Regions from separate parts of the Homo sapiens genome. Here region 2 is linked to region 1. Evidence: fine-mapped expression QTL. A gene starts in region 1. The other region holds a variant in brackets. All regions are shown on one strand. Distances are from middle to middle. Region 1 holds the start of NET1 (neuroepithelial cell transforming 1). Region 2 holds the start of LOC105376381 (a long non-coding RNA gene).

Region 1 (16,022 bases):
GGAAAAAAATGATTTCATAAAACATTAAGATTGCAAGTTATTTTTCCAGAGGATACACAGAATAACCTCCTAAAAAGGAGGGCTTAAAGGATGAAATGTAGAGCGAAAAGTGGCAGTCCACCTTTTCAAGAATTTTTGTCCATATATCCAATGTATTTTTCTATATATCCAAATAATTACAACATTTAAGGAATAAAATAAACTAATACATTAAGGAATTAGCTTAGTGTATTAAATTAAGTTCCCGATTTGACTCCTGTAGATTTTCCTTGGCCTTTAATGTTTTCCTTTCATATCATTTGGTATGTTTTTGAACAATGTATTTACACTAAATTAGGTTTAGTCTAAAGAAATCATAATTAAAATGATAAAGCTGCTGTTCAAAAGAAAAGCATCTTGTTAATTCATTCTTAAGCCAAATTATGTTTTCAGAGTTTCTGATTTGTGTCACCACCTCCTCCATCATGCCAGATAAGACCTGACCTGAAATTATAAATATTTTCAAAAAACGTATTGAAAATTACTATTACCAACAGGAAAAAAGCATTCTTAAAAGCATAATTTACCCTCAAGATGCATTCACCATAAAAAATGGATGTAGAATGAAAACGAGTTTCAGAAAAAGATTTTAAAAAGGATAATGTTATCATTTATTGGGTGCCTACTATGTGACAAGCACTGTACATATACTCTTATCCTAAAAATAACATTTTTTCCAATTAAATAAAAAATGTAATCTGTAAATGCCAAACATATAAAAAGAATTATACCATACATGTAAAAAGAATGGTATAATTTATCCTCTGCAGTTAACACTTTTTACATTTGGGGTGTGCCAAGCAACTGAGGTTCTCAATTTCTTTGCAAATCAGGCAAAAACAAACTAAATTATTATAGAAACAATTCATTTATTTGGGTCAAATATCTGATGTAGTAGACATCCACTACTGTTTTGGCTGTTCAGCATCTTTGCTATTAAGGAGTTGTCTCTTCTTCCACTTCTGACAATCATGTAGACTATGTCTCCTATCATACTAGGGTTTTCTCATCTGCATGAGAGTCTCAACTAATACATACATCTTGGAATATCTTGTCTAGAACACAGTTGAGCATCTAGAAACCAGCAAACACCACCCCCAAAGCACCCCAGACATCCTAATGTCCTGCATTAATTCTCAGGCCTTGCCCACAGCAGCAAATTCAGGGAAGAGGGAACAGGGGATAATGACAACAGCAAGTAACAGAAGGAAAGAGAAATTCTGAAGGCTTCCATCATTAACAATCCAGTACTCTTTGGAAACAGTGTGGCAATTCCTTAAGATGTTAGTGGTAAGTTTACCGTAGGACCTGATAATTCCACCCCCAAGAATTTACCCAAGAGGAGTGAAAACGTATGTCTACACAAAGACTTTTTTTTTTTTTGAGACGGAGTTTTGCTCTGTCACCCAGGCTGGAGTGCAGTGGTACGATCTCGGCTCACTACAACCTCCGCCTCCAGGGTTCAAGCGATTCTCCTGCCTCAATCTCCCGAGTAGCTAGGATTACAGGGGCACGCCACCATGCCCAGCTAAATTTTATATTTTTAGTAGAGACAGGCCATGTTGACCAGGCTGGTCTCGAACTCCTGACCTCAGGTGATCCACCCGCCTCGGCCTCCCAAAGTGCTGGGATTATAGGCGTGAGCCACCGCGCCCAGCCTACACTAAGACTTACATGCAAATGTTCATAGCAGCATTATCCATAAAAGCACCAAACTGGAAACAAATCAAATGTACAACAGCTGGTAAATGGAGTTGACAAAATGTAGTATATTCATATAATGGAATATGGTTTGGCAATAAAATGAAATACTGATGTAAGTGAAAGAAGGCAGAAGCAGAAAGACTACACATTGTATGATTCCACTTGTATGTCCTGAAAATAGAAATTTATAGAGCTAGAAAGCAGATCAGTGGCTGCCTAGGGCTGGGGTGGGAGCAGGGATATTTGGGGTGATGAAATGTTCTAACAATGGATTGTGGTAATGACTGCACAACTCTATAAATTTACTGATAATTACTGAATTGTTCACCTACAAAGGGTGAATGTTATGATATACAAATCATATCTCAATAAACTATTTAAAAACATAGTCAACTTATTTGGGACCACATGGCCTTACAAGCTTCTGTGAGCATGCCTTTTATTTTTGGCAACTACTACTACTAATAATAAAGATCCTGGGTTGTCAAGAATTGATTTAAGGCTATACCTTTAACTGGATATCCACTGTACAAATCCATCAATTAATTTTACTGGAAAAACAAAATTCAAAGAGTAAGCCTTATCACTGTTGGTAGATCATAGGTCATACTATTATTTTTCTACCAATGGACAGCATTATTTCAAATCTGCAAAAAAGGAAAATATAAAATCCTTAAAAGGATCAGTATGTATTTATATTTCTGCCATATGGGTGATATGTAAAGTTCTATGGCTTTCCCTAAGGCCCCGAAAGACAGAAATAAAATTATTTAAACATTACTTGTGTCCAATTTTCAGGACCTTAGACATAGGTACTATGAAGTGAGATTTAGAGACTAAGTAACTTGCCCAAGGTCCTTAAGAGCCAGAATTTGAACCTAGGAAGTCTGACTGCTTTTAATGCCTAAAATCTTTAAACGTTACTCTTTGTCTATGGGTTCTAGTCTAAAAGAATGTTAAAAGAATATACATTCTCAAAGGAGAAGACAGAAAATAATTAGGTAAATCAAAGCTGAGGCCAGAACAGACTTGGTATCAAAAAAACTAGGCCAGAAAAGCAGTCCTCGTTCTGAGCTCTCAATCATGTAGTATAACCTAGGGTTCTTTAGAAAGACCCTTGCTGGCCGGGCACAGTGACTCATACTTGTAATCCCAGCACTTTGGGAGGTCAAGGTGGGCGGTTCACGAGGTCAGGAGATCAAAACCATCCTGGCCAACATGGTGAAACCCCGTCTCTACTAAAAATACAAAAATTAGCTGGGCGTGGTGGCGCTTGCCTGTAATCCCAGTTACTCGGGAGGCTGAGGAAGGAGGATCACTTGAACCAGGGAGTCGGAGGCTACAGTGAGCCGAGATCGCGCCACTGCACTCCAGCCTGGCGACAGAGCAAGACTCCATCTCAAAAATAAATAAAAAAATAAAATAAAAAAGAAAGACCTTTGCCTACTACCCAGAACTGGGAGGTGAGGAGAAAGACGTTAAGAGGCCTGTCATATTGTAGGGAATATCTACATAGAAAACATAACTGCTGCCCCAGAGAAACTTGCACAGGTGTATAGAGGAGATGTATCAACAAACAACCTAAAATCCCAAATACATCTTATACAACATACCAAATATATTCCACCTGAGTTATAAAAATTGTATATTATAATATCTCACTGTACAGAATATCATAATGTATTTAGCTTCCTCCTCCTGTTTTTTCTAACCTTTCTACTACACAAATGTGCTAGGATATACTTTCTTGTACATACATCCATGTATACTTGCCCATTACTTTAAGATAAATTTCTGTGGGTAGAACTGCTTGGTTTAAATATTTGCATTAAAATTTTGTTTTATTTGCTATATTTCCCTTCAAATACACATAATGGGAATATCAGAAAGAGAGGAAAAGAGAAAAGAGCAGAAAAAAACTTCAGAGAAACAATGGCTGAAGCTTCTCCAAATTTATTGAAAAACAACCACCTACACATTCAGAAAAAGCTCAATAAACTTCAAGTAAGATAACACAAAGATATCCACAGACAGACACATCATAGTAAAAATGGCAAAAGTTAAAGATAAGAAAATCTTAAAAGCAGCAAGAGAAAAAAACACTTGTTATTTACAAGGAACCCCAAAAAGATTCTGACTTCTTAACAGAAACAATGGAAGACAGAAGCAGTGTGATAACACATTCAAAGTGCTCAAAGAAAAAGAAAATTTCAGCAAAGAATCCTATACTATCAAAATTATCTTTCGAGAATGAAGGAGAAACAAAGACATTCCCATAAAAACAACAACAACAACAACAACAACAACAAAACAAAGAAAAAAAACAAACAGAGAATTTGTTGGTAGCGGACTTGCCTTACAAGAAATACCATAAGAATTTCTGGCTGAAAGCCAGTGACCACAGACGGTAATCTGAGTTCACATACAAAACCCAAAAAAGCCTAGTAAAAGCAGTGTCAATGAAAAAAATCAGTAAAGAAATTCAAATGCTATAAATTAGAAAATTCTCACTTAATGCAAAAGAAAGCAATAAAGGAGGAATAGAGAAACAAAAGACATATATAACACGACAAAATGGCAGACATAAATCCAACTATATCAATAAATAACGTTAAATGTGATTGGAGTAAACAACCCAATCAAAAGAAATGGACAGCCAGACAGGATCAAAACCAACCAACCAACCAACCAACCAACCAACCAACCAACCAAGATCCAACTATATGCTGTCCACAGGAGACACACTTTAGTTTCACAGATATAAACAGCTTGAAAATAAAGGGATAAACACGTATCATGCAAACAGCAAGCCACAAGAAAGCTAGAGTAGCTATATTAACATCAAACAAAATGGCCTTTCAAAGAAAAAAATGTTACCAAAGAGGGATATTTTATAGTGATAAACAGATTGATCCATCAGGAAGATACAATTACAAACATATGTGCATATAAAAACAGCACAATCTCAATAAATGTAAAAGGATAGAAATAATACATAATACAAAGTGTATTTTCCAGCTGCAATGTAATGAAATTAGAAAAAATTTGTGAAAGTCACAATTATGTGGAAATTAAACAATTCATTCCTAAATAACTAATGGCTCAAAGAAGTCAAAAAGAAATCAGAATTTGAGATTAATGATAGTGAAGACACAATATATCAAAATTTATGAGATGCAGCTAAAGCAATGCTCAGAGGGAAATTTATAGCTGTATCCCTATATTAAGAAAAAGATCTCAAATCAGTAACTTAATCTATAATCATGACACTGGAAACAAAAAGGGCCAACTAAACCTAAAGCATGCAGACTAATCTGAGCAGATTACTCAGATTACTAAGCAGGAAGAAGGAAACAATAAGGATTAAAGTGAAAATAAAACAAAGAATAGAAGAACAAAGAAAATTAATGAAGCTAAAATCACATTCTTTGGAAAGATCAAGATTGACAAGACTGTAGCTAGATTGACCATCATCATAAAAAGAAAGAAGACACAAATTACAAGAATCAGAAATAAAAGAGGGGACATTACTATTGACATTACATGAAAAGGATTATAAAGAAATACTATGAACAAGGAAGGGTACACCAACAAATTAGATAACTTTGATGAAACAAATTCCTAAAGAGATACAACCTACTGAAACTGACTTAATAAGAAACAAACTATCAGAAGACACCTACAACAAGAGATGAGATTGAATTAATAATAATAATAAACTATCCACAGAGAAAAGTCTAGGCCTAGGTGGCTTTACACTGAATTCTACCAAACATTGAAAGAATACCAATTCTTCACAAACTCTTTCAAAAAAAACAAAACAGTAGGGAATACTTCTTAACTGATTTTATGAGGCCAGTATTATCCCAATACCAAAACCAGACAAGCATAGTACAAGATAATAAAACTACAGATCAATATCTTATGAATATATATACAAAAATATTCAACAAAATATTAACAAAATGGATCCAACAATATATTTAAAAAAGCTATACACAATGACCAAGCAGGACTTATACCAGGAAGGCAAAGTTGGTTTAACATCCCAAAAAATCAATTAATGTAACACATCAGTAATAACAACAACCACATGATCATTTCAATAGACAAAAGAAAAAAAACCCTAAAACCTTTCATGATAAAAACCACTCAAAAACTAGTAACAGAATGGAACTTCCTCAACCTGATAAAGGACATCTACAAAGCTTACAACTAACATCATACTTAATGGTGAAAGATTGTATGCTTTCCCCTTAAGATCAGAAACAAGACAAGAATTTCCCGTCTCTCCACTTCTGTTCAGCGTTGTACAGGAGGCCCTACCCAGGGCAATTAGGAAAGAGAAAAAAGTAAAGGGCATCCAGAGATTGGAAAAAGAAGTAAAACTATTTTTATTTGCTGATGACATGACCCTGTACACAGAAAGTCCTAAAGAAACCACTAAAAAACTATTAGAACTAATGAGCTCAGCAAGGTAGCAGGATCCAAGATCGATATACAAAAATCAATTGTATGTATTCCTATACAATTGAAATTATTAAACTGAAAATAAAGTGATACAAAGCGGGGCAGGGAAGTGCTGCGTAGAGGAGAGCGTGGTCCCTTGCTAGGGCTCCATCCCCAGGCCTGGGCCCACGGACCTAAGTGAGGATAGGCATTTCTGTTTTCCTACCCAAATGTTGCATTTCCCAAGACCACCCTGGCTCACCACACCCCCATCCTGTGCCTATAAAAGCACGCCCCCACCTGTGCCTATAAAAACCCCCCGAGACCCTAGCAGGCAGACACACAGGTGGCTGGATGTCAAGAGGAACACATCGACGTGGGAGTACACCAGCACGCTGGCAGGCCAGCTGGCAGGCCATCGATTCGCAGAATGACGCAGAGCTTGGCCAGGGAGGTTGGAGGAGAATCGGGCAACCTGACACCAGGGCAAAACCATTTCCCTTCTGGCTCCCCCATCTGCTGAGAGCTACTTCCACTCTATAAAAGCTTGCAATCATTATCCAAGCCAACGTGTCATCTGATTGTTCCAGTACATCAAGGCAAGAACCCTGGGATACAGAAGGCCCCCTGTCCTTGAAATAAGGCAGGGGTCTAACTGAGCTGATGAATACAAGCCGCCTACGGATGGCTAAACTAAGAGTACCCTGTAACACAAGCCCACTGAGGCTTCAGCTGTAAACATTCACCCATAGACATGGCTATGGGGTTGGAGCCCCACAGCCTGCCTATCTATATGTTCCCCTAGAGGTTTGAACAGCAGGGCACCGAAGAAGCGAGCACACCTCCAGTGCACGCCCTGCGAGGGGGAAAAGGGAACTTTTCCCATTTCAAAAGAAATGAATCCATTTACAACTGCATCAAAAAGAACAAAATACTTAGGAATAAATTTAGCAAAACATGCAGAACTATACTCTGAAAACTACAAAACACTGTTGAAAATAATTAAAGATCTAAATAATTGGAAAAACATCCCTTGTCCATGGATCAGACTACTTAACTCTCTGTAGAGGGCAATACTCCTGAAAATGATCTACAAGATTTAATGCAATCTCTATCAGAATCCCTGTGGACTCCTTTGTAAAAATCGATTAAGCTGATTCTAAAATTCACATAGAATTGCAGGAGACCCAGGATAGCCACAACAATCTTGGGAAAAAAAGAACAAAGTAGGAGGACTCACATATCCCAATTTCAAAACTTACTATACAAAGCAACGGTAATCAAAACACCATGGTAATGGCATAGGGCTATTACATATAGATCAAGAGAATAAAAGTCAAAGTCTAAAAATAAACTCTCATGCTTAAGGTCAACTGATTTTTGACAAGGGTGCTAAGACTACTCAGTGGGAGAAAGAACAGTCTTCAAAAAATGGTGCTGGGGTACCTGGATAGACACATGAAAAAGAATTAAGTTGGACCGTCATCTCACATTATATACAAAAACTAACTCAAAATGGATTAAAGACCCAAATATAAAAGCTAAAATGATAAAATTCTCAGAAGAAAGCACTGGGGAAAGGATTCATAACAATGGATTTAGCAGTGATTTCTTGGATGTGACACCAAAACACAGGCAACAAAAGCAAAAATAGACAAGTAGGACTACAAACTAAAACATTTTTGTGCTTCGAAGCACATCATGAAAGTGAAAAGACAAACCACAGAATAAGAGAAAATATTTGCAAATAATCTATCTGATAAGGGACTTGTATCCAGAATAAAGAACTCTTAACAACTCAATAAAAAAGAAATTTAAAAATGAACAGGGCCAGGTGCGGTGGCTCACGCCTGTAATCCCAGCACTTTGGGAGGCCGAGGCAGGCAAATCACAAGGTCAGGAGTTCAAGACCAGCCTAGCCAACATGGTGAAACCCTGTCTTTACTAAAAATACAAAAAATTAGCCACACGTGGTGACACATGCCTGTAGTTCCAGCTACTTGGTAGGCTGAGGCAGGAGAATCACTTGAACCCGGGAGGCGGAGGTTGCAGTGAGCCGAGATCATGCCACTGTACTCCAGCCCCGGTGACAGACTGAGACTCCGTCTCAAAAGAAAAAAAAAAAAGAGCAAAGGATGGCCCACCAAAAATGGCCACACACATTACATAAATCCATTCATATGCAATGTCCAGAACAGAGAAATTCCTACAGACCGACAGATTAGGTTTTAGGGCAGAAGGGGTAGGAGAGGAACAATAGCTAAAGGGTACAAATGCTCTTTTTGAGGTGATGAAAATGTTCTAAGTAGTACAATTTAAGTGGGTAAATTGTACTGTACGTATTTGTCTTTCAAATTAGTTTATACTGAGTTTTGCCTGCAGAACGTTTTTCAATAGTCACATAATCATACACACAAATCTTTTTCCTTATGATTTCTGAATCTGATACAGTGCTTAGTTGCTTCTTGCCTCACAATTAATACTATCTTGTAATATTTTACGTATTCTTGTAGATGATCTTACATCTTTTCTGGAAAAGGAATATGTTATTTAATTCTCCATTTTCTCTCCATGGTTCTTCTAACTGTGTCTCACTCTCCTCATGCTGCCTGTGTTACTACGCTTTTCTCACAATGTATCATTTCCTACCTCACACAAAAAATAGAGGCCTGGTGGGAAAGTCCTCAAATTCCTGCTCACAACACACCCCATTCTTCAAAACTATATATCATCCATAGCTTCTTGTTAGGCTAAATCCTCTACCTTGAATTTGGATTCTGTCCTTTTCTGCCTTCTTGGATCCTTGTTCAACCATTTTTCTCCTCTACTGTCTGTTCAACCTCTCCCTCTATTTGTTAACTCAGCACAGCACATCAAGGGAATTTATTCTTTCTTAAGAGTCTATCCCACAAAATTGTGTTATTTCTCTCTATTCTTTCTTGTCTTCCTGTTGCAGTGAAACTTCTCTTCACCAATCCCATTGCCAGCTATCAGATTCGAACAATCATTTTTTCATTTAGACTACTGCAGACTGATTTCCTACCAATCCATCAGCTAAACTTGGAAATTTTAATTTGGTATACACAGCTGGGTCCACAAATCTCCTGAAATGTTTATGTATATGTGCACATTTTTGGGGAATAGTTTTCATAAAATATGAAGAGTGAGATGACTCCAAAATGTTGCTTATTTTTCTCATGGAAGGCAAACTGATCTTTTAAAATGCAAATATGTCATGCCATTGGCTCATTTAAAGTCTTTCAGTATTTCCCCATTACCATGAAGATAAAACCCAAACTCTGTCAAGGCATACAAGGTCTCTTCATGATGTGGCGCTTACCTCTTTAGCATCATCTCTCATGACTACCTCCTCCTTCTCCCCATATTGGTTTCCTCTCCTCTATACAAATATCACTGTTAATATAGTAATAAAATAGAATATATACCCAGAACTCATCAGACTCATTTGCTTCAGGGCCTTTCTACATGCTTCTCTGCCTGAAATCATCCATTTACATCTGCTCTCTAAACTGGTCCTTAAAGACTCAGGGATTACAATAGGAAATCATTTCCTATTCTCTCCAGTCAGGATTAAGTGTTCCTTTTAATCTACGGCATTCTGTGTATATCACTATAATAACTTTTATCACATATTATAATAATTATTAACCTACTTATCTTTCTTCCCCACTAGATTATAAATCTTAAATAGTAACAAGAGTATTTTTCCATTTCCATATTCCTAGTGTTGGCACTCACATTATTTTCTGAACAAATCGCACATTCTCTTCTCAACCTGTTGCAAAACACTCTAAGTTCGATATTGTAACCATTCTTGGAAACCATCTAAGATCAATACTCTCTTCTCATTACCAAATTTAATTTTCATTCCTCATCTAGCTTAATCCTCATCTTATTTTACTTAATCCTCATTTTATTTGACCTATCAATAACATCTGACATAGCTCGCCACGTCCTCTTCTTGAAATTCTTTCTTCATTTGGCCTCCTGGATACTGTTCTCACTTGGTTCCCTTCCTCCTAATTCACTAGCTATCCCCTGAGCTTCGCTTTGTGAAATTTCACTGAGCCAAACACGAGTCATACACTCTCATTTCAATGTATACTTCCACAAAAAGTAAAAAGAAAAAACACGAAAATGGTTGTGATGAACTCTCTAATAGGCATCTCATAACATATCCCGAAGTCAACTTATCCCTTAGTCTTTTCTTTCTCAGGACATGGAAGCCCATTCTCGTGGTGCTCACCATGACAGTTTCGGTCTGAGCAAAGGCATTTGGGAACGCCAGCCTACAGCCAGTTGGGTGTGCAGAACAAAACCATTGTGGTTTTTCCTAAGTCTCCCCTGAGAAACAGTCAGGAGGCGAGGAGACTCAATAAACCCGCCCCTTTGCCACAGGCAGGGAAAATCGCAGTTTGGGGTCTCAGGACCGACCTCGGTCCAAGGCCAGGCACACTGTCACTCCAGCCTGTGCCACCCTCACTTCCAGCGGCCCCCGTCCCCCCCCCCAACCCCGCGGTCACCTCCCCCACCCCCCACTCACCTCCCAGCGGCCCTCGCCTCCCCCTGGCCCTCACCAACACCCCCACTCGCCGCCCCCCACATCCAACTCCCGGCCAGCCCTCCCCTCCCCCCGGCCCTTGCCTCTCCAACACTCACCTCCCGTTCGGCCCTCCGCTCCCCTACACTCACCTCCCGTTCGGCCCTCCCCTCCCCCACACTCACCTCCCGTCCAGCTCCGACCCGGAGGTGTCGGCCGAAGGCCCCGTCGCTCCCTCCGTGCTGAGCCCAGAGGCCCGGCGGCTTCGCCTCCGCGGTCGAGGCTGCTTCTGAGCCGCCAGCTCGGGCTCCATGGCACGGAGGAGGGGGTGGGGCGGTGGCCGGGTGCCCGGGAGACCGGCAGGGACGGGCACGATGCCCGCCAGCCTCTGCCAGGCAGAAAGCGCCTGTCAGCGGACTGCAGCCGCCACCGCCGTCATCCGGGGATTTGAAAATGGCGGCTGAGCAGCGATCAGCCAATCAGTGAGCGCGCAGCGGTTCCTAGGAGACGTGGAGTCCCGCCCCTCCACCGCTCCCGGGATCTACTTGCCTAGGAAAGAACCTAGGAAAATTTGCCCTTAACTCCTGAGCGCATCCCTGAGTCCCTAAGGCCCGGTACCTCCTTCATTGTTCATTAGGACTTTCACTACAGGCCAAGGCAAATGGACTGGAAGCATTTTAATTCACCAGATCTTTCTTAGCATTTGAGGAGAAGAGAGGTCCAAACTAATGACCTGTAAACAAGGCATGTTTATTGGCCATATTCACACTGAATTATTGTGCACGTGGCCAATATGAGATATATTTCCAATTACCAAAGGTTATGCAAGTGTGTTCCCGGGACTGTCTCTAGGGAACCAGCAAAATCTAATTATGAGCCCTTATGTCTTCCAATAAGCATGACACAGTCTCTCCCTAGCAAAACAGAATGAAGTGACTTCATCCTTTGCTTGTAAAAGTCAGCAAAAGACATAATATAAAATAAAAGACCGCTTCAAGTAAAAAAAAAATTGTTAAACAAATTACACTTTCTTTGATTTTAAATATTGCTTTATATGTGTCAAAGTCTTTAAAAATAGCTTCTCCTGACCGGGCGCTGTGGCTCACGCCTGTAATCCCAGCACTTTGGGAGGCTGAGGCAGGCGGATCACGAGATCAGGAGATCAAGACCATCCTGGCCAACATGGTGAAACCCTGTCGCTACTAAAATACAAAACTTAGCTGGGCAGAGTGGCGCATGCCTGTAATCCCAGCTACTCAGGAGGCTGAGGCAGGAGAATTAGTTGAACCAGAGAGTCGGAGCTTGAATTGAGCCAAGACCGTGCCACTGCACTCCAGCCCAGTGACAGAGCGAGACTCCGTCTCCAAAAAAAAAAAAACAAAAAAACACTTCTCTTTTGCCAGTATATTTCCACTTATGGAAATTTATCCTAAAAAATAAAATTATATAAACATGAAGCTATTAATGACATTGTTTATAATAGAAACATTTAAAACAACCTAAATAAACAATGATTTATAGCTCATCCACTGAGAAGAATATTTTCAGCCAACAAAAATGAAGTGTGAAGTATGTAATAGTATACTGGTAATTTGAAATAAAAACATGAAGTATAGAGGTATATTCAGTATATTCAAAGTTATGAATTACAAGAGATTATACAAAGAAAAAAGATAATGTATTAAAATGTATTAAATGTATTAAAAAGTCAATGTATTAAAATGTCTCTAGGTAGACTTTAGGTATTCAAAATTTTTATTTTTATTTTTTGCATTTAATTTTTTTAAAAATAAGGACATATTGAATTTGCAGTACCTTTATAACATGAGGGAAAAATGTTTTTGTTTTAAAAAGAGTAAGAAATTAGGGAGTAACATTGAGATGTGAAGCCAGCTAGACTTCCTGGGTAGAGTGGGGACTTGGAGAACTTTTCTGTCTGGCAAGAGGATTGTAAAACACACCAATCAGTGCTCTGTAGCTAGCAAGAGGATTGTAAAATGCACCAATCAGTGCTCTGTAAAAAGCACCAATCAGCAGGACCCTAAAAGTAGCCAATCACAGGGAGGATTGAAAAAAGGGCACTCTGATAGGACAAAAATGGAACATGGGAGGGCACATATAAGGGAATAAAACCTGGCCACCCCAGCCAGCAGGGCAACCCACTGGGGTCCCCTTCCACACTGTGGAAGCTTTAGTTCTTTCACTCTTTACAATAAATCTTGCTGCTGCTCACTCTTTAGGTCTGTGCCACCTTTAAGAGCTGTAACACTCACCATGAAGGTCCATGGCTTCATTCTTGAAGTCAGCGAGACCATGAACCCACCGGAAGGAACCAGCTCTGAACATAAGTTGACCTTGGTCAAGAACCACTTCTGTTCTACCTTCCCCATCCCTCCCCAAAAATTAAAGAAGAAAGTACTGCTTTGTAGCAGTTAGAGTGTAAGAATACAGAAATGTTCTTAATATTTGGGGAGTTGGTCTCCACCAAGACAGAGCTTCAGAGGATGCAGATGTTTAGATTATGAACAAAAATAAACCTGTAAGAGCAATTCTTCAAGTCAGGTCCCAAGTAGGTCACAACTACTCTGTGTCCAGAAAACTCACACCCCTTTGGGATTTTCACAATTTACCCGAATTGACCAATCAGGGCTCACCTGATGTAACCGATCAGAACTCATCTGCTTTATCCAATCAGGGTTCAGCTGTATTACCCAATCTGAACTGAGCAAGTCTGAATCTTTCCTTTGCATAAACACATCTGATTGGAAACCTGGACAAGAACTTTTTCTATAGAAGCCAAACCCTCCCCTTTATTCTCTGGAATCACCTTTCTTTTACTCCGAAGGCTGTGTCTCCCTGGTTTGCAAACTGTTCACTAGAATAAAGTCTCCTTTCTCCAAACTTCCTTTTCAGAGAACTTTTGTTCACAAGATAGGACCATGTGAATCGCTGACGCTTGGTCTTTTTACCCACAGAAACAGCCGTTTCATATTAATAGTTTCAACATACTTCGGTGAGATCCTCAGAATTCAGGGTCTGTCCTCAGCTTTGCAGGTCCTGAAACTGGTTTTGATTGTGTCATCAGAGGTGGTCAGTCCTTTGGTAACTTGTAATAACTACTCACAAAATGATAGATACTGCAGGATGTCAATGTGGGGATTCCAGTGGTGGGGGTGGGCACTTCTTTCCAGTGACCTGAATACTATTGTTTTATGCAGAGCAACTGTTTCCAATTTTCATTCACTTGAGAACTTATGATTTTGTTCAATTATTCACAAGAATTTATTAAATTCCTGCTATAATATGCCAGGATCTGTGCTAGACATTAGGGAAATAAGGAATAGAAGACAAATTTTCATCAGAAAATGGCTGGGTACCATAGAAGAAGAGCAAAGAAAAGTGACCGCTCTGAGGGTTGGTCATTGAAGACCTGGGAAAGGCTGGTGACATCTCTTGATCTTACAAGAGATCAACTTTCTGGTGTCTGAATGCCATTGTCCCCATGTTCTATGTCTTACACTGTATAGAACAGTCCCAAAACCATGACAAATGTTCTCTGAATCCTCTCTCTTTCAGTTCCCCACAAATCATCCTTCTCCCTTAAAATATTCACCGGGATAGGGTTTGAGGAAATTGTTTTGATTTCAGCTTTCATATATATAAAATCAGACTCTAGAACTCCCTCTCTGAGAAGATATTCCTACTAACTTGACTAGAGCAAAGTGTAACCCAAACTTTTTCAACCATGGATTTGCAAAACAAATATTCTTTTGGGGAACTTCCTCAAAGATTATTTCCAAAACCTTCAGCCCTATGTGATGACACCAATCATTTTGCAAGTTGATATTAAATAAATTCAACAATCAATAAATGAATGTAAATTATTATGTAAATCAATAATTTAAAAACCTATTTTCTTTCATTATCTAAGTAAATCAAACTATTTTTGCAAAACTGCTTACCAAGTTTTATATATATATATATATATATATGTATATATTAGAGTACAAAGTGTTCATCAAAACACTTTATTAATTTCCAAATTATTTGATGATTTTGATGTGATATTTTGTTTGCCATTGCTATCACTAGCTAAATGATTCCCCTTTGGTCTGTAGGCTCCCATAGAAAAATGTAGCAAATTTGCAAACAATGACCTACCATTAGAAAACTAGTAGTCTTAATAACTAGAGAATTGCCCTTTGCATCAACGTTTTTCTTTTTTGTCTGAATCTTCTCATAGCTTCTCATGAACTAACAGCAATTACATTCAGGAGAATGAATGTCTGTATGTGTGCATATACATATAATTTATATATAGAATGTTATAATAAAGTCTGAAATTTTTAAAAATATATTTACTATATCTACTATTGATTAATTTACAAAACTGTTTATTAGACTGTAATTTTTAATTGGGTCAAACTTAATTGTTCCTGCCAAATGAAAGGGAGTGTAGTCCAACAGCTAAGTATGTGGACTGCATTGATTGTCATTCTGACAAGCAGAAGTGTACTTATAGGCACAATAGGGCAGAATATTTGAAATCAGGTTTGTCATCCCTTAAAATCTATCACTGTGTGTGTATGTGTGATGTGGGGGGAGGTTGTTTCATTTTTTGCCTCAATCAGTCAATCAATCAATCAATCATCTATGAATCATTTGTTTACCATATTGGTTTACTCTTAGGTATTCCAATGAGGAAAATGGAAAACTCCAAAATCTAGCTGTTGAGCTTAGAGAACAATAAAATTTGAGATGAAATATGTGTGGCCAGAGAAGGTGCTATTAATCCAAAGTAGACTGTAATTCATTTTTCTTAACGCTTAGACTATCTTCCTAAAGACATTGCAGGTCTAAAAGACTGATTTATATTAGTAGTAGGAGAGGAGAACAGAGGAGGAAGGAGAAAGGGGTTTCAGTGCAATGGTAGGGGCCAGAGAGAATGGCAAAGGACAGTGATCTGGCTGTGGTTGTGAGGCTGCCAACAGAGAATTACCAAAGAGAACTTCAGAAATGTCAGAATGTCAATCAGAATTATTGCTCAGAGTTGAATAATTTTTTTTTTTTGTAACAAATTTTCATGCTTAGAAGGTTTTGTTTGTCTCATTACTTGGCCAGTGAATTGACTGGCTCACAATGAAAAATACTTAAGAAAGGAACTTTTTTTTTTTTTTGAGATGGAGTTTTGCTCTTGTTGCCCAGGCTGGAGTGCAATGGCGTGACCTTGGTTCACTGTAACCTCCGCCTCCAGGGTTCAAGTGATTCT
Region 2 (16,022 bases), 150 kb before region 1:
TGGTGCTGGCCACTGTGCCACCTGGCTGTCGCCCTCTAAGAAGGTCCTGCTGTCATGCCTTCCTCCTGACTGCTGACAAATATTCTCGGGGGAAGAAGCTGGTACGGAGCCTACTGGTTGTGCTCTGAGAAACCTCTTCCATGGCTAAAACCAAATTTCAGGATAGATAAGAGCAGCTCCTCAGAAGAGAAAGTTGGGAATCTCTGACCTGGATCAGGAGCAAACACATCCAAGCCCCTAATGGTGCATAAGCGCGGTGTTAAACGGCTCTGTTCCCGGCCAGCCCGGACCAAACCTACAGCCCAAAGGGGGAAGAAAACCCATCAACGAAATCACTTTTAAGATCCATGGTTGTCCCCCATTCGATAACCATGAATCGACTGTCCAGGCTGCATTTATCCAGCTGCAAGAATTCTAAAGAGAATGAGTTGCCCACTGATGCCCCTGGGCTGGGCCCAAGGTGTGGGGCCAGGTGTGAGGAGCTGTACCGGCCCCAGGAGGCGCCCATGTGGAGAATCTCTGTCCTTTGCACCTGGACCTGTGGGCTTTGAGAGCTCGGGCCCCAATTATGGCCAGAGCTAGGGTTGGTCTTCCTCTGCCCTGCAAATCCCAGATGTAGTAAGCATTCAGTACATTGTGTTAATAAATATCCATAAACTTGCATCAACTTATAAAAAGTATTGATAAATTTTGCTTCCATTCACCTTAGTGAGTAGATGGTCCATGGGATGAACCTTGATCCAAGAACCCTTCCGTCTGACTCCACCATCCAACGAGTTTTGGCTGCCAGCAAACTACCTCCTCTGGACCTTTGATCTCAGGTCCAGAGAACAAAGGCTGTGATCAGGAACGCAGGGTCCCCGAGGATAAGGACCTGGGCTCCTGTAGGGGCCTGGCGCTGGGCCTGGGAAGCTCTTTGTTTGAGTGTCCAAGCCTGGAGTGTGCGGGTCCCCACCCAGTAAGCACACCACTCACACTTGTAAACAAGGCATAAAACACACATTTGTGTAAATGCATGAACAAAAATGCAAGGAGGTTCAAACTCTGTCGCTATGAATAGATAGGACTTTGTTTACAAAGCAATGGGTTCTATGAACAGAAGGGACCTGCTGAACCTCTGAGCCCTGTCCCTCCATCTGTTTGCAGCTGTGAAGGTCAAAGTTCTCTGGGACACCATGATCTTGGGATCCAGTCCCTAGGGCTAGACTGTCCCAGGATGGAGAATATTATAATACTAGTTTCTAGATATCAACCACCGCCTCTGTTCCAGTGCATTAGGTACACGAATCCTTCTAATTACTCTGCGAGGTGGGTTTTGTAAATCCATTTAGCAGTTGAGAAAACTGGCACTCAGAGAGGTTGAGCAATTTTTCTGTGATCACACAGCTGGTAGAACCGAGATGCTTCATCACCTCTTTTTGAATCAGATGAGGGCAAAACAACCCCAAATCATTTAACTTGTTTACACTTAGAGTAGAAGTTGAAAAAAGGGGAAAAGAAGGGGTCATGGTTGGGTATCTGGTATCGATGATGGCAATTACGTTCATCTGGATACACAGGAACCAAACCCACACCCGGATAAAGGGAAGAGAGTTTTGCAGATGGTCATTGCAAATCAACAAAGCCAGCATCACTGAATGCTTCCTGTGTGCAGGTGCTGGCTGGGCCAGGGTCCCTCTTTTTGTTAACAACCAGTTGATGTGAACCCCTTGATGGGGACCTCTGTCTAATGAGAGAGATGGAAGAGCTCATCTTCTCACTGAAAGGAGCATTCAGTTCAACTTAATGAATGTTTACCACATACTTATTGTAGGCCAGGCTTGACGACAGGCACTGGGTGCCTGCAAAAGCAAGGCAGGGACCCTGCCTCCAGCTAGTGAGGAGGGGGACCGATGTCCAGGAAGAAGAATTAGCACTCAAAGCCCTGGACACTGGGCTTCCCTGACACCGCCCCACCGGCCTCCTTGGGCCAGATGAGACCTGTGATGCAGCTGGACGCAGTCCCCGAAGGCTTCACAGTCTGGTCCCCATCCAGCCCTGCGCCCTCCGCCCTCTGCCCCATCTGCATGTAACGGAAACAGATGGGCGAGCTGGCTTCTGAGTCTCGTGCCCCTGCATGCAGACCCGGGCCCTGGAGGAAGTGTGCCTGCCTGGCTTCAAAGCCATGGCCCACCCTTTCCTCCAGAGCCAGCCTGGCTGTGGCGCTGCCTGGGCTGGTGGATGCCAAGTCTGTGCCTGGACATCAAAACAATGCAGCCTCCCTCTTACCTCATCTCTCCGCCTTTGTGGCGGACAGCTCACGGCCCACTCTGTGCTGGAGAGGGCAAAGCTTCACCTCTGGCGCATGTGCCCCTCCTTCAAGTGTCTCCCCGTCGTGCCGGGTTCCCAGGCAGCTCTCCTCGCAGACCACGGATTTTCCACCAGGCCTTGCCTGAGATTCCACACCTGGGCTCATCGTCAGATTCACCTGGTGGGCTTCTCGGAAGTATCTGCTTCTTGTTTGGTCCCTCAAGAATATTTCCAAAGGTTTCGGGGGAGCCTAGAGATCTGTTTTTTTGAGAGTGTCCTGGGGGATCCTGGCAGCAAACCAGGCTGTAAGATGCATGTCCCAAGCCAGGCTCCCCAAATGCACATTTTGCTGGGCTGCCGTTCTCTTGTGAAATGTTTCCCAGAAACTTTGCCTGCAAAATCTTCCTTTCCTGGAGATTTGTGATCACAGTGACACACTGAGGGACTGATGAGCCTTTACAACAGATAGCTGTTGTCTAAAGGTAAACACACTCTTTTGAGAGAAGATAATTTTTTTTCCTGGCATCACAATGGTTTTTTCTAGGACTAGAGAGGAAAGTCTTACTCCAGATGTTTTCTTACTTCTTCCCTCTTTTCCATAGACACATACCTACCTTGTGCCCATTCTTTCCACGGGTGTCATGGAATCATAAGGGAAAAATGACTGGAGAAATGAATCCTGTGCCATTCATTAACTCATTAGTGAGTTCTCACCTCCCAGGAAAGATAGTTCTGTGATCCAGTTTAAATATTTACATTTCCATGATGCTTTTTAATCGAGGATCTTAACTTTAGAAATATCAGACTTTATGACAGATGGAGAAGGGATTTGGGGGGGACTATGAGCTTTTGAGAGCAAAATTTATTAATTCATTCAACCAGCCAACAACCAATCAACGAACCAACCACACACCAACCACACACTCATTCACTCACCCACCCACCAGCCAACCAACAAATCACCAACTGCCTATAAACCACTAACCATCCAAGCAATCAACCACCAACCAGCCAACCAAGCACTCACCTACCTACCAACAAACCAACCAACCACTCACCCACCTACCAACCAACCAACCAACCACTCACCCACCTACCAACCAACCAACTAATCAACCACCAACCAACCAATTAGCCAATCACCAACCAACCAGTCAAGCACCAACCAACCACCAACTAACCAACCAACCAAAAACCACTTACCCACCAACCAGTCAGCCAACAAACCACCCGCTAACCAACCAACTACTTACCCACCAATGAATCAACACTTTATATTAAATAAGGTGCCTTTAAACAGAAACATACATAAAACAAAGTTATATATGGATTGGTTGACAAAAATGCTATGGTCAGGGCTGGTAGGAACATACCCCATATTTCTCCTGGGAACAATGGTTCAGCATAATTGTCTCTTGGTATCCTTGGGGGATTTGTTCCAGGACCATCTGCGGATACGAGAATCCAAAGATATGCAAGGCCCTGATATAAAATGGCATAGTGTTTGCATATAATCTATGCACACCCTCCTGTATACTTTAAATCATTTCTAGATTACTTATAACACCTAATACAATGTAAATACCATGTAAATAGTTGTTATACTATATTGTTTAGGGAATAATGGCAAGAAGTAAAATAGACATGTTTAGTACAGATGTAACCATCATAGGCCTAATTACATTATCAATCCAGGGTTGGTTGAATCTGAGGTTTTGGAATCCATGGATTCGGAGAGCTGACTGTATTTGCTAATTCACTGTTCTTGGTGACTTTAGAGAACAGAAGTACTGAGAATGACAAGCATTGACTGTACTTTGTCTAATACTGAGAATGAAGGAGAATAAATGAGAATTCAGGAAGCATAAAACAAATTAGTTTACAAAGTCTGAGATAAGCTGGCATTTACTGATGATTTGCTTAGATACAGATCTCCCGGCCCTTAAACGTTAACTACAGTTCACAACCGTGTTGCCTGAGCCCCTAGTTGTTCTCCCTTCTAGCTTCTCTCCATAATTTGGGAGGAATTTGACACTTTTGTGGTCAAAAGCAAGAGAAACTGAGACCCTCTCTGAGGTTCACTGATAATTTTATTCTGTTTTTAAAAATAAGGCCAAGATATAATAAAGTGCACAAATCTATACAGTTTGATGGACTTTTGTGTATGTATACAAGCATGAAATCATCCCTTGAACCAAGGTTTAGGGCATTCCTCCTTAGATTGTTGTAGGTCTGAGAGACACACCTCCTTATACCTGGTGTATTCATCAGAAATGATCCCATGTGACCTTCGGAGAGATATCGCCTCCTATAGCCACAGCAAGGATGTGGTTTTTGTCTTCAGGCTCATTAAGAAGTCCATATATTGATAAAATATATAACATTCACATCATAAAACAAAACAAACCATGCAGATGGATAGGAAAAGAAGGGGTATTGCCTTAAACTATGGTGGAAGACAACATTGTTATTTATTAGTTAATGAGCTGATTCTTTGAAAATGATTAACTTCTAGAATATAGATGTTGAACAAGGTAGCATTCCTCCTTATCACTGAGCAAATATTTGTGGATGGCTATTTGGATGCTAATAAAATGTATTGAGATCAATACCTTCTTCATAATTTTTGGCTCGTAAACATTTTGTTCATATCCTGGAGACTCATGTGTGCAGCACGTGTTTTTCACTGGATGTAGCAAAGCTTGTGGGGTGGCTTTCCTTCATAATTGTCTTCTGTGGATTTATGGTCAGCTTTTGTTTCAACAAAATCAACTACCAAAGAAGCTTGTGACCATGAGTTTGTGAGAAATCTTCAAATTCATTTTTGTTATAGGTGGTATTTAGTAGGTTTTTGTTCGTTTGTTTGTTTGTTTGTTTGAGACGGGTCTGGCTGTGTCACCCAGGCTGGAGTAGAGTGGCGCATTCTAGGCCCACTGCAACCTCCGTCTCCCTGGTTCAAACAATTCTGCTTCAGCCTCCTGAGTAGCTGGGATTACAGGCACATGCCATCATACCCAGCTAATTTTTGCATTTTTAGTGGAGACAGGGTTTCACCACGTTGGCCAGGCTGGTCTCGAACTCCTGACCTCAGGTGATCCACCCATCTCGGCCTCCCAAAGTGCTGGGATTATGGTGTGAGCCACAGCACCCAGCCTTTTTCTGAGAAAAAAAGATAGATATGTAATAATCTTGCATGATAGGTTTTTTGTTCTGTAGGGTTCTCTGGCAGCCCCTGTTTTATCCATTGGACCAACTGTCTGTAAAGGCAGGTAACTTACTTACTTCTTTCTCCTGGAGAAGGACTTTTTGCCCTAACCGAAGCACACTAGTCACAGAGTTGTCCTAGTGACAAAGACACAAATTGAAGCTGCACTCAGTACTCATGGCTGATCAAGGGAAGTGAGCTCATCTCACCTTGACTCACAGCGATGACAGGTTCAAGCCCCTGCATGTGGGCCCGTTCCTCAGAGGATGTTTGCAATGGGGGTGGGGGTTGCCATGGTGATGCCCAGTCAACAGAATGGAGAAAAGAGAAATTTGGTTTGAAATGAAATTTGAGTCTTGAGAGAGGGCTGATATGAAGGAGAATCAAACAAGCCACATGGGAGCATCTGAAGGCCTGGAGATAAGGGCCTGTTGCATGGCTGTGAAAATTTGGCCTTTAAAATAACTAGGCATGGGCCAGAAATCACAGCCGGCGGCTGCGACCACCCAAGTGAGTCAAAGGGAGCTGGATGAGAAGGTGGGGGGCACGCCTGGGTTAGGGTCCTTGACAGTTTTGTCCAGATTGGGTTTGAGTGTGGGGTGTCCTCATGGGACTCTGGTGAGTTGGGGGTGGGAAAGGCGGTTGACTCCTTGGGGGCTGGTCACCACTCAACAGCTGTTCTCCAGTGGCACTTTATGAAGCAATGTTAGCAATGGGAGCTCCCCTGCCAAGATGTGGGTGGTCGGTACCCAGTGGCTTTCAAAGCCAGCAACCCAGGGATCTCACAGAAGTCCATCAGCCTGAAGGCAGGCACGTGGGAGATGACTAAAACCAGGTGATGTAGGCAAGAGGTACCCTCAGAACGCCCTCGAGTTGCCCCATTGTTCTTTTCTGTGCTGCCTGTGTGTGCAGCCGCTGAGCTCCTTGTGTTTTCGGGAGGTGGAGTATGCACCCCTGTGGGCTCATCCATCCTCGCCCTCATCATCCTCCCTGGCACCGTGCAGACTCTGAGCTTCTGCCCGCCCCACCCAGGTGTCTCATCCCACCTGCCTCGGGGAGCCTGGCTGAACAGCAGGCACCACCCTGAGCCACCCCTTCCCAGCCAGAGCAGCTCCGGTCGGAGGCTTCCTCCCAACAGGCGGGCTTCTTAAGCCTCCTTAATCTGCACGGAGGAAATTCAGAAATCCAGTCATCCTGAAACCATCTTCCTTCGGGGCAGGACAGAACCCGTGTGTGTGGGTAGATGAGTGTGGATGGTGGGGGTGGGAGGCACATTTGTCATCGTGCTCAGCCCAGAACTTCCCAGATGTTCAGGCCAATCAGGGTGAACCCTTGAACTTCCCTGGGCCTCTGATGCCCGGCTAGTGCCTCAAAAAGCCTCATCCGCGGGTGCTTAAAAAAAAAGACTTGAGGCTTCTTTACAGACACAGCTCATTCTAGAAATCTTCCAGCCCCAACATCACCAAAGGCGAAGAGAAGAAGGAAACTCACTATTCTAGCAGTCCCTGGGCCAAGAGCCTGTTAAGCCATTTTACGAGCCGTCCCCTAAAACATGACAATTCTGCCAGGCAGGTGTGGCAGAAGCGGGGCTATGTCTTTCCCAGAACACTGCAGCTTCAGCATGTCCTGCTTGCAGCCGGGGCCCCTGGGAGTGATGCTGGAGGACACCACCTCCAGGCTGCCCCAGAAACCTCCTGCCCAATACTCACACCGTCTCTCTTCATCTGTTGACCACTTTAGGGCAGGAGATCCAGCGGGGGACTATGGAGCTCAGTGGAGCTGCGGCCTGGGAGAAGCCCACCCAAGAGAACCATGTAACTAGAAACCATCACATTCGGCTTCGTGTGAGGGAGAAGCAGGTGTTTCATTGCACGCAGTTACTGAGATCTGGGGTTGTTTGTTATTGCAGCAAGGACCCACCCTAACACACGAGGTGTTATATGCATTTTACAGATTGCCAAGATGGTACAGACAGCAGAAGTGGCAAAACAACACTTAAACTCAAACCTGCCCAACTTCAAAGTCCACGCCCTTCCCTGGGCTTCAGACTGCCGTCTTTGATGCTATCTTTCATTGAGATGTTGTTTGCATTAAATGGGGGATCTTGCGGCACACGGTGGACCTTGCCCAGCACCCACTCTTCCTAGGGCCAGCCTTACTCTGTGGGGTCAGCCTTTGACCGTCTGGGCCATGAAGGTGGCTGATGAGGCCCCTTCGACAGCCAAGTTGGGGCACAATCTCCTCCGGATGTTGTTATTCCTTCACAGTCTCATCGCAGGCGGGGAGGAAGTCAGAGGGCTGATTTAGAGGACAGAGATACAAACAGAGTGAGCAGAGGATGTTTGGCTGCAGTTGCTCCAGAGTTTCAAGGGAGAAAACACAAGCATTGCTGAGCGGCCATTAGGGGCTTGCACGCTCAGCTGGGCACATGTCCACACCGAGGCATCACGTGCGGTCTGAGCTGAGCTCTCATCTCTGGGTTTCAGGACTTTCAGCACAGTCCTGGCCCTTCACGTTTAGTCTGGGTGATCAGGGATGTAAACCAGCAATTGCAAGGTGGTGAAGCACCACCGTGGAAGGGCACCAGCCGGGCCCTGGGGTCACAGAAGTGCCCCAGGAAGTGTGGCCGTTAAGCCTGGTGAGAGGAGAGCGAGCCGGGAGGACGGTGAGAGACAGGCATGACGGGGCGGTGAGTGTGACTGCTGCTGAGCATGTCTGAGACGGCAGGCAGTCACCAAAGGCTTGTAAGCAGAGGCAACACCCTGACTTGTGGTTTGGAGAGATCATGGTGACTGCCGTGCAGGGACGGAATGGAGGCTGCTCCAGTGACTCTGGCCGTGGGCAGTGGTGGGCGGGTGAGGGGACAGAGGAAAGTGGATGGAGTTGCTGCCCCCACAACCCTGCTGAGAAAGTGCCCACGGGACCTGGCGGGGTGTGAGTCACACTTGGGCTGCTCTGCCTGGCTCTGCACCTATTTCGTGAGCTGGAAGGGACAGCCTGAGCCCCGTCCCTTGGATGGACATCAATGCAGGAGTAAGGGTCTGTCTCTGAAGCTCTCTGAGCAACGGAAGGGAAGGTGCCCACTGGGCTCAATGCAGAGATATTGGGGCTGATGTGGCAGGAGGGGTGGGTGTGCAGGCCCGGCGGGGAAGGAGACTTCCAAACAGACGGGCTGCCCCACGGGGAATCTGGCTGGGGCCAGTCATTCTCAGAGTCAAACCATCTTCATTCAACTCCGAGGCTGCCCCAGGCCAGTAGCGTCCTTCCTGAGAGCGCTTCCTGCGAGATTTATGAGGCAGGGGCCAGGCCTGGATCGTAGAAAGCTAGAGAATGCCTTGGCTGCCCAGGGAAGTCTGGAATTTCTTCCAAACCAAGCTTCCAGACGTCCCTCTGGACTCCTCTGTCTGAGAATGGGCACTTTAAAGGCCCAGGAGAGAACTCCCATGACACCGTTTTCCAACCTCCCATCTCCCCTCCCCGGCAGCTCCCCATTTCCGGCATCTCGGCTTGGCAGGACCCCTCCAGG[A/G]CCTCACTCCTCTGAGACGCACTGCAGACCTCACAGGTGACAGCAGCGTTTTGCTGACTCAGAGGCAACTACCACGATGACCCTCCAGCCCGTGTCCAGACCTGGGGCAGCGACTTGGACAGGGGGCTGCAGAAGTGGGTCTGTGAGGGGGACCTGACGGGGGGCTGCAGAAGTGGGTCTGTGAGGCGGACCTGGGGGGGCAGCCCTGGGGTGGGCTCACTGGGGTTCACTCCACCTCGAAGACTTCAATTCCAGCTCTGGCTGGTTTTGTTGGATTAGGAACACACAGCCAGCCAAATCTTGGTTACTAGGGTGCCAGAGATCACGTGGAGAAATGAAATAAAGAGAGAACCCCCAAACGGTGGTGCTGCCATGCATTGGAGCCTCTCGCCCCAACAGCATTCTTACTTTATTTATTTATTTCTCATCCACATTTTGCTGGAAGATTTTGCGCATTCATAATGGCAAACAGAATATGGCGATAAGCTTCTGTGTACACTATCATCAACAGCTTTCAATTCCTAATTAACCTTATTTTATCAATATTCCCCATAATCCCCCATGCTGTTTCTTGGCAAATCTAGATGACCCACCATTCCAGCCTTAAAAATTTCAGTGTATAACTGACCAAAGCTTTTTATTAGAATTGCTAGGTAGGGAGGAAATTTAAGTTTCTATGACTATGCCTAGTAAAGTTTGAAAAGAAGACAACGGGGGAAATAGACATTGACAATTCATATTGAATAATTGCACAGAGACAGTTCCTTTGTTTGAGGCTAAACCGAGACAGAGCCTCAGATACCCTCACTCACTCCTCTCTGGCTGAGAGGGGAGGAATTTTCGTCTGGGTCAGGGAGCAATGAGGTGGGAGTTTTGTGCTTCGGTTCTGGGGTGGAGATGGAAGGTCATAGGTAGCAGTCCAGTAACTGGCCCCATAAATGGTTCTGTGAGGCAGAAGCAGCTGCTTTGTGGAGGACTTGTGAGACTCTGAGGGAGGAGGAGGGAGGGCTCACGCACACCAAGGCGGCCCCCATTGTTTGGGTTTTGGGAACCCTGGGAGACAGTGGCCGTGGTCTCTGGTTCCCCTCACTGGGGCTCCAGGAGCAGTGGCCATGTTCAGACCAGAACAAAGGGGTCAGGACCAAGAGGATAAAGAGATACAGGCATGGCTGCTGGTGGGACCTGGTGGTCTGACAACAGAACACCACAAGACATCCCTCAGGGACCGTGTGTCCTTTAGAGACACTTCCCTCCACAGGGATGTGGCCATCAGATGTCTGTCCAACCCGAGAGCTAGCTGTGCAATGGGCCCAGTGTGGAGGTATAGCCAGTGGGAGGGCTGGAGCCATGGTCGGGAGTGGAGGGGTTGCCTGCAGTGCCTGTGGACGGGAGGGGCACCAGGAGAGGAGGGTCTGGAGGGGGACACCAGGAGAGGGGGATCTGGGGGGAGATACCAGGAGAGGGGGATCTGGGGGTATACCAGGAGAGGAGGATGGCGGGGGACACCAGGAGAGGGGGACCTGGGTTTTACCAGGAGAGGGGTACCTGGGAGGATACCAGGAGAGTGCACCTGAGTGGGACACCAGGAGGTGGAGACCTGTAGGGGGAATGCCAGGCGAAGGGGACCTGGAGGGTAACACCAGGAGAGGAGGACGGGGGTGGGGGGACGCAAGGAGAGGGGCAGGGCTTGGAGTCACTCTGCCATCTTGGGCTCCTCAACTTTGGGATGCCAGCTCAGCCTTTCTGAGACTGGGTTTCCTCATCTGTAAAATAGAGGGATCTCCCCACAGAGCGTTTGTGAGGATTAAAGGATCAATTCCAGAAAAAGGCTCAAAGCAACGCCTGTCCCGCGCCCGGCCCACAGTGAAGCTGGGCGTCGTTACTCCTGCTGTGGTCACTGGTGGTGTGAGGACCGCAGCACAGGGCAGGAGGGACACGGCCCACAGGGCGTCCGGCCTCCTTGGCACCTGCTCCAGGGCCCTTCCCGTCACCTCCTGGCTCCTCCGTGCACGTCTTGCTCCAGCGCTGCGTGGCCGCCTGTCCCCATTGCTCCGGAGCCCTTTACATTCATTTCTCCTCACCTGGGACCCTCTTCCTCCCCTCTCTGCAGTGGAGGCTCCCAGCCTTGTCCAAGGGCTTCCTGGGAAGTCACTTTCCCTCCGAAGCATCTCATGCACCCTCCGGGCACCCTCACCCCTCCAGAGGTCCTGTGGCTCCCCAACTAGTGGGTGACACTGTCCTATTGCTGGACGCCATGGCTTCGAGGGCCTGTGTTACCCTTGGGCAGGGCCTTTAGTCCTGCAGGCTTGGACTCTGTCTTATTCATCCAGCCCCTGCATGCCTGGCATGGGCCAGGGCCTGGGCTGGGGGCTCAGGAGATGTAGTTGGATCTGAATGCTGGGTTGGAGAATTCTGTAAACACATAGGATGCAGGGTGAGTGGCCGTATGGGACATGAGCAAAGTCCTCTGGGAACCTGAGGCGCAAACTCTGAGTTCATTTTCACACCCTCCATGGTGCACACTGCCATATACCAGCAGGTGCCCCCAAACGCACAGCTGAATGACAGAGAGAAGTCAACCCGTGCAGGCTTCATCTGACTGTCTCCAGACGACTGGGTCCCTGGCCCTGGGCGAGCCCCTCCCGGAGGGTCTCCCTGCATTCTCTGCCAGGTCTGGGCCCAGGACCATCCTCTGGGGGATGGGTGTGTTGACTGCTGGCTGTAGAGTGTGGCCTGTATCTGCCCCTCTCTGGGTCCCACCCTTCTGGGACTGTCTCAGATTTGAGGAAAGGAAGATGGATGTTGTCTGGTCCGGTCCGTGCCTCACCGTAAGGTGTCGTGTTGTGCTTTTGGCCACTGAAGATTTTCCCTGGTCTCTGGAGCTCCAGCCAAGCTCTCTGAGCGCCAATATCATGTTTCCGTTTTCCCGCTGTTCTCAACAAGCAGCTATGGATTGACTGGTTGATCGCAAGGCTGTTTTAAACAAAATAGAATATATTTCTTTCAAGAAGTCCAAAGCTCTCAGAAGAGCATTTCCAACTTATTTCCAATAATCTCTAATCTCTGAACAATGTCAACCCATCACTCCTAGATCTTTCAGGCACTCCCCATCCCCCCACGCTGACCCTTTCCTGTCTCACACACACTGTCTGGAGATAAAACTGTGGGGGGCGGAGGTCTGGGAAAGAGAGAGAGACACATACACACAGAGAGTCAGAAAGAGAGATCAGAGAGACAGAGAGACAGAGACAGAGACAGAAAGAGTTAGTGAGATCAGAGACAGAGATTCAGAGAGATCAGAGAGAGAGTCAGAGAGACAGAGACAAGAGAGAGGGACTCAAATATGTTTCAGACAAGAACCTGAAGCAATTGAGTCAAAGTTCTGCAAAAAAAAAAACCCACGAAATTTAATTTTAGATGGAAAAAAAATGACGAACCCCTTTGAGGCCTGCCTGTTAGTTTTGGTTGTGTGTCATTGTTTAAATATTCTTTGCATTTCCCCTCGCCAAAGACTCTAGTTAAATTAGAGCCAGCTTAAAGCACGCTTTATTTATGGCCGTGCCTACCCCCAAGCCTCGGGGTTGTTTTGAGCCAGCAGGGAAGGTGTACTTAATATAGAGCAGGAGGGTATGTGTGCAATGTTCTTTGAATGATGATTGCAAGGTGCACAGAGAAGATTTGACTTTATTTAGACATTCGGTTTCTTCACAGTCTCCTCTCTGGAAGGGCTCTTGGCTTCCTCTCCAGACAGCATGTGTGTGGTAAGGAAAAAGCCTGCATGTGGAGGTCTGTGGGAGGAGGTGTGACTGCAGGATCGGGGTAAAAGATTTTCATTATGAGGGAGGGTGCGTCACCCACACTAGGAATTCCCAGGAGGTGCAGTTTGATTAAATATTTGTATGGTCCAGGTTACCCTCAGCTACCCCGATAGTGGGTGCTCCCCGAGGCAGTGTGTATTTTGGGGAACAGTAAAAAAAATCCACGCTGCTTAATCAGAGATAAAACATTCAGAGACGGCAATGATTGGTGCATACCTGCGTGGAGGGTCTACACTCTAAAATATTTGCCAGCATATTATTCTCAACTTATGAAGCAACACACCAAGGCATTCTGGGTAGAGGGGGAGACCCATAAAAAAGCTTGTGCCTTTAATAAAATGTGTACCGGCCGAGCGCGGTGGCTCACACCAGTAATCCCAGCACTTTGGGAGGCCGAGACAGGAGGATCTCTTGAGCCCAGAAGTTTGAGGCCAGCCTGGGCAACACGGTGAAACCCCATCTCTACAAAAAATACACAAATTAGGTAGGTGTGGTGGTGCATGCCTGTGGTCCCAGCTACTCAAGAGGCTGAGGCAGGAGGATCACTTGAGCCGGGGAGGTCAAGGCTGCAGTGAGCTGAGGTCGCACCATTGCACTCCAGCTGGGGTGACAGAGCAAGACACTCTGCCTCAAAAAACAAAATAAGCAAAAAAACCACGTACTTTCATAAAGCTGAGTTGTGTTTGCAAGGACACGTCTCCCCTATAAGGAAGACTTGGGAGAGAATTGATGCTGAGAACACCAGAGCTATCCTCAGACAGTGCACTCCTTGTTTTAAACTAAATTCAGTAAATATTTTGGAGGATTTTTGATGTGTCAGATACACTCACTCTTTGTCCAGGGCAACTGGGAACTGGACGAAGGGCAGGACCTGGGGTTCCTGAGTCTGCTCAGTTACTCAGGAGCAGCCCAGTACCACCCGGGCTCCAGAGAGCCTGTTCCCTCTGAGGGGACGTCGGGGGCCCTCCAGAGGAAGGCGACCTTAGAGGTGCACCTGCCAGATAGGTGGGTGCTCTTCCTGTGCCCTGGCACAGCTTGAGGGTGTGAAGGCAGCCGAGTCTCCTTCCTGGGGACAGTGGCCTCGCCTCTCCCTCCTGGGCAGCAGCTTGCCTCCAGGAAGGTGGCCGAGGGCACCGACTCCTTCCCCAGTGGTGGAGGATTGGGGCTGCAGTCAGGGGTGGGGGCAAATGGCTAAGGAGGCAGCGTGGGGGTGGCGTCCAGCCCTGTGCAGTGCCCTTGCCCCCACCGCTTGCCCTTCTAGCTTCTGGACTAACCCCTGCTGCCTCCGCCCAGGCTCCTCTGGGGGTCAGAGCAAAGAGGACAGGGTGAGGGGACATGGTGCTGCTGGTTCCGGGTGCTGCCTTCACCCTGGGAAGCTGGCGCCAGCTTTCTTGGGTGGGGGCTGCATTTACATAATGGTGAGTTCTCTGGAGGAACACCCCCAGCAGCATACGGGGTCCTCAGCACCACAGCATTCCCTGATGGGCAGATGACCCCTCCGGCCTCTCTGTGCCTCCTGCATCTTCCTGCCGTGGTCACCCTGGCCACCTCCTTCCCGATGAGCCCAGCCCTTCCCCGGCCACCTCCTTCCCGATGAGCCCAGCCCCTCCCCGGCCACCTCCTTCCCGATGAGCCCAGCTCCTCTGCAGCACCCACTCAGCTCCGGGGACCCTTGCGCTCCCCACGACATGCCACAGGGCACACTGTTGAGTGACGCTGGCCGGTTCTCCTGGTTCTGCCCAGAGACCCCCAGGGGCGCTGCTCTCAGGCCTCTTCCCTGGAGCACTGAGCTTCCCGGCCACGTGTCGCACAGCCTCCTGGCAGCCTCAGGGACAGATACCCCTCAGCCAGGCAGCCCAGCGGGGGGTCTCAGGACCTGCTCCCTTGGCTGGTAGTTGGAATGCGGGGGCAAAGAGCAACTCCTTTCCTACCCTTCCCTCGGGGAAAGGGGAAGACATGCCCTGTCCACTCCCAGACCCTCCCAAGGGAAAAGAGGCTGCAAAACACCATTTGGTGAGAGGCCTGGTGGAGCCAGGAGACGCAGGCGCTCAGGGAGAGACAGGCCCCTCCACACCGGGGCCTCCTTCTGGAAACTTAGTTAGAATTTGTCCCTGAATTATAATAAGACAGCCTCTACTTTGAAAAGAAACCGGCTTTGATGTATTGTTTGGCGGCAGCTCCCCAACACTGAGATCTGACGTGCCCCCAGATTCCCTGGGCTCAGAAAACAGGACACGCCGAGGACATAGAAGCCTGGGTGAGCAGACCCCAAGGGAAGCCCCGGTGTTAGAGAGGAACCTCCCTCCGGAAAGACGCCGGGTTCCTCAGAGGGCCGTTTTCATGTGAGATGGGGATGTTTTATTGGGTGCAGTGGCAGGACCAAGGGCTGGGAGCAGGGAACCTCTGGGCTTGCCCTGGAAGCTTCCATATGGGGGCAGCCAGGCAGAAGCCTGTGGGGTGAGTGCTGCATGCCACAGGGGTGGAGGAGTGGGCTCCCTGGAGGAAGATCTCCTGATCCTCAGGCCTCCTCCAGCACCAGGCGCAGAGCTTCCGCCACCAAGGATGTTCCAGCAGAGACCACACAGCCGCGTGGCCTGGACTCGAAGCCATCGAAGTTTTGAATCTCTAAGTCCTTATTTCTTGCCAGCCCAACTATTAATAAATCAAAAGCTCCTTGGAGCGTTGGTTTTTATTTTCTTCTCCCCTAGAACAGTGTGGAAGGAATGAGTGCCTGCTGCCCATGGCCAAGAGACCCCTGACCCCTGGTGATGAGGAAGCTCTTGCTTGTCACTCAGCCCCACATGGTCTGGCATTCACGAGCCCAGTCATCACTTTCTAATCAGGAGATGTCTTATCCTTTTATGGTTTTGTTCCCACCCTTGCGAGGTCAGCTGAGGGTTGACCCTTTGTCTCAGGAAGGTGGCAGGAGCCAGAGAGGAGCAGCCCGAGGTGCTCGGAATTGTACCTGCTCAGGAAGCCAGGCATAGAGTCCACGAAGCTTCACTCCTGAGCCCCTGGGGAGCATTCCTGGCAGCGTCGGCACAGGCAGAACCATGGAAGGAGTCGGCGTCCACCCCGGGACTTGGTGGTACCCAGTCTTCTCCTTGCACACAAATGCCACCGTGCCTGTCATTCAAGTATTGCTTTACCTAAAAGGCTTGAATTTGGAGGGGGAGGCAGGGGA

Evidence for each region.
Region 2: its variant is fine-mapped to the expression of NET1 in whole blood (TOPMed, PIP 0.98).

The regions. Positions count from the first base shown.
Region 1 is chr10:5,407,737-5,423,758 of GRCh38, reverse strand. It overlaps NET1 (neuroepithelial cell transforming 1), which reads right to left and starts at 11,202. Exons shown (of 12, transcript NM_001047160.3): 1 at 10,939-11,202. The coding sequence starts at 11,066. RefSeq lists an enhancer at 2,376-2,545 and a silencer at 10,861-11,290.
Region 2 is chr10:5,556,518-5,572,539 of GRCh38, reverse strand. LOC105376381 (a long non-coding RNA gene) reads left to right here and starts at 5,659. Exons shown (of 2, transcript XR_001747274.2): 1 at 5,659-6,004; 2 at 7,235-9,379. RefSeq lists silencers at 8,370-8,596, 14,467-14,789 and an enhancer at 11,309-11,810. The variant A/G (reference allele first, on the strand shown) is at 9,021.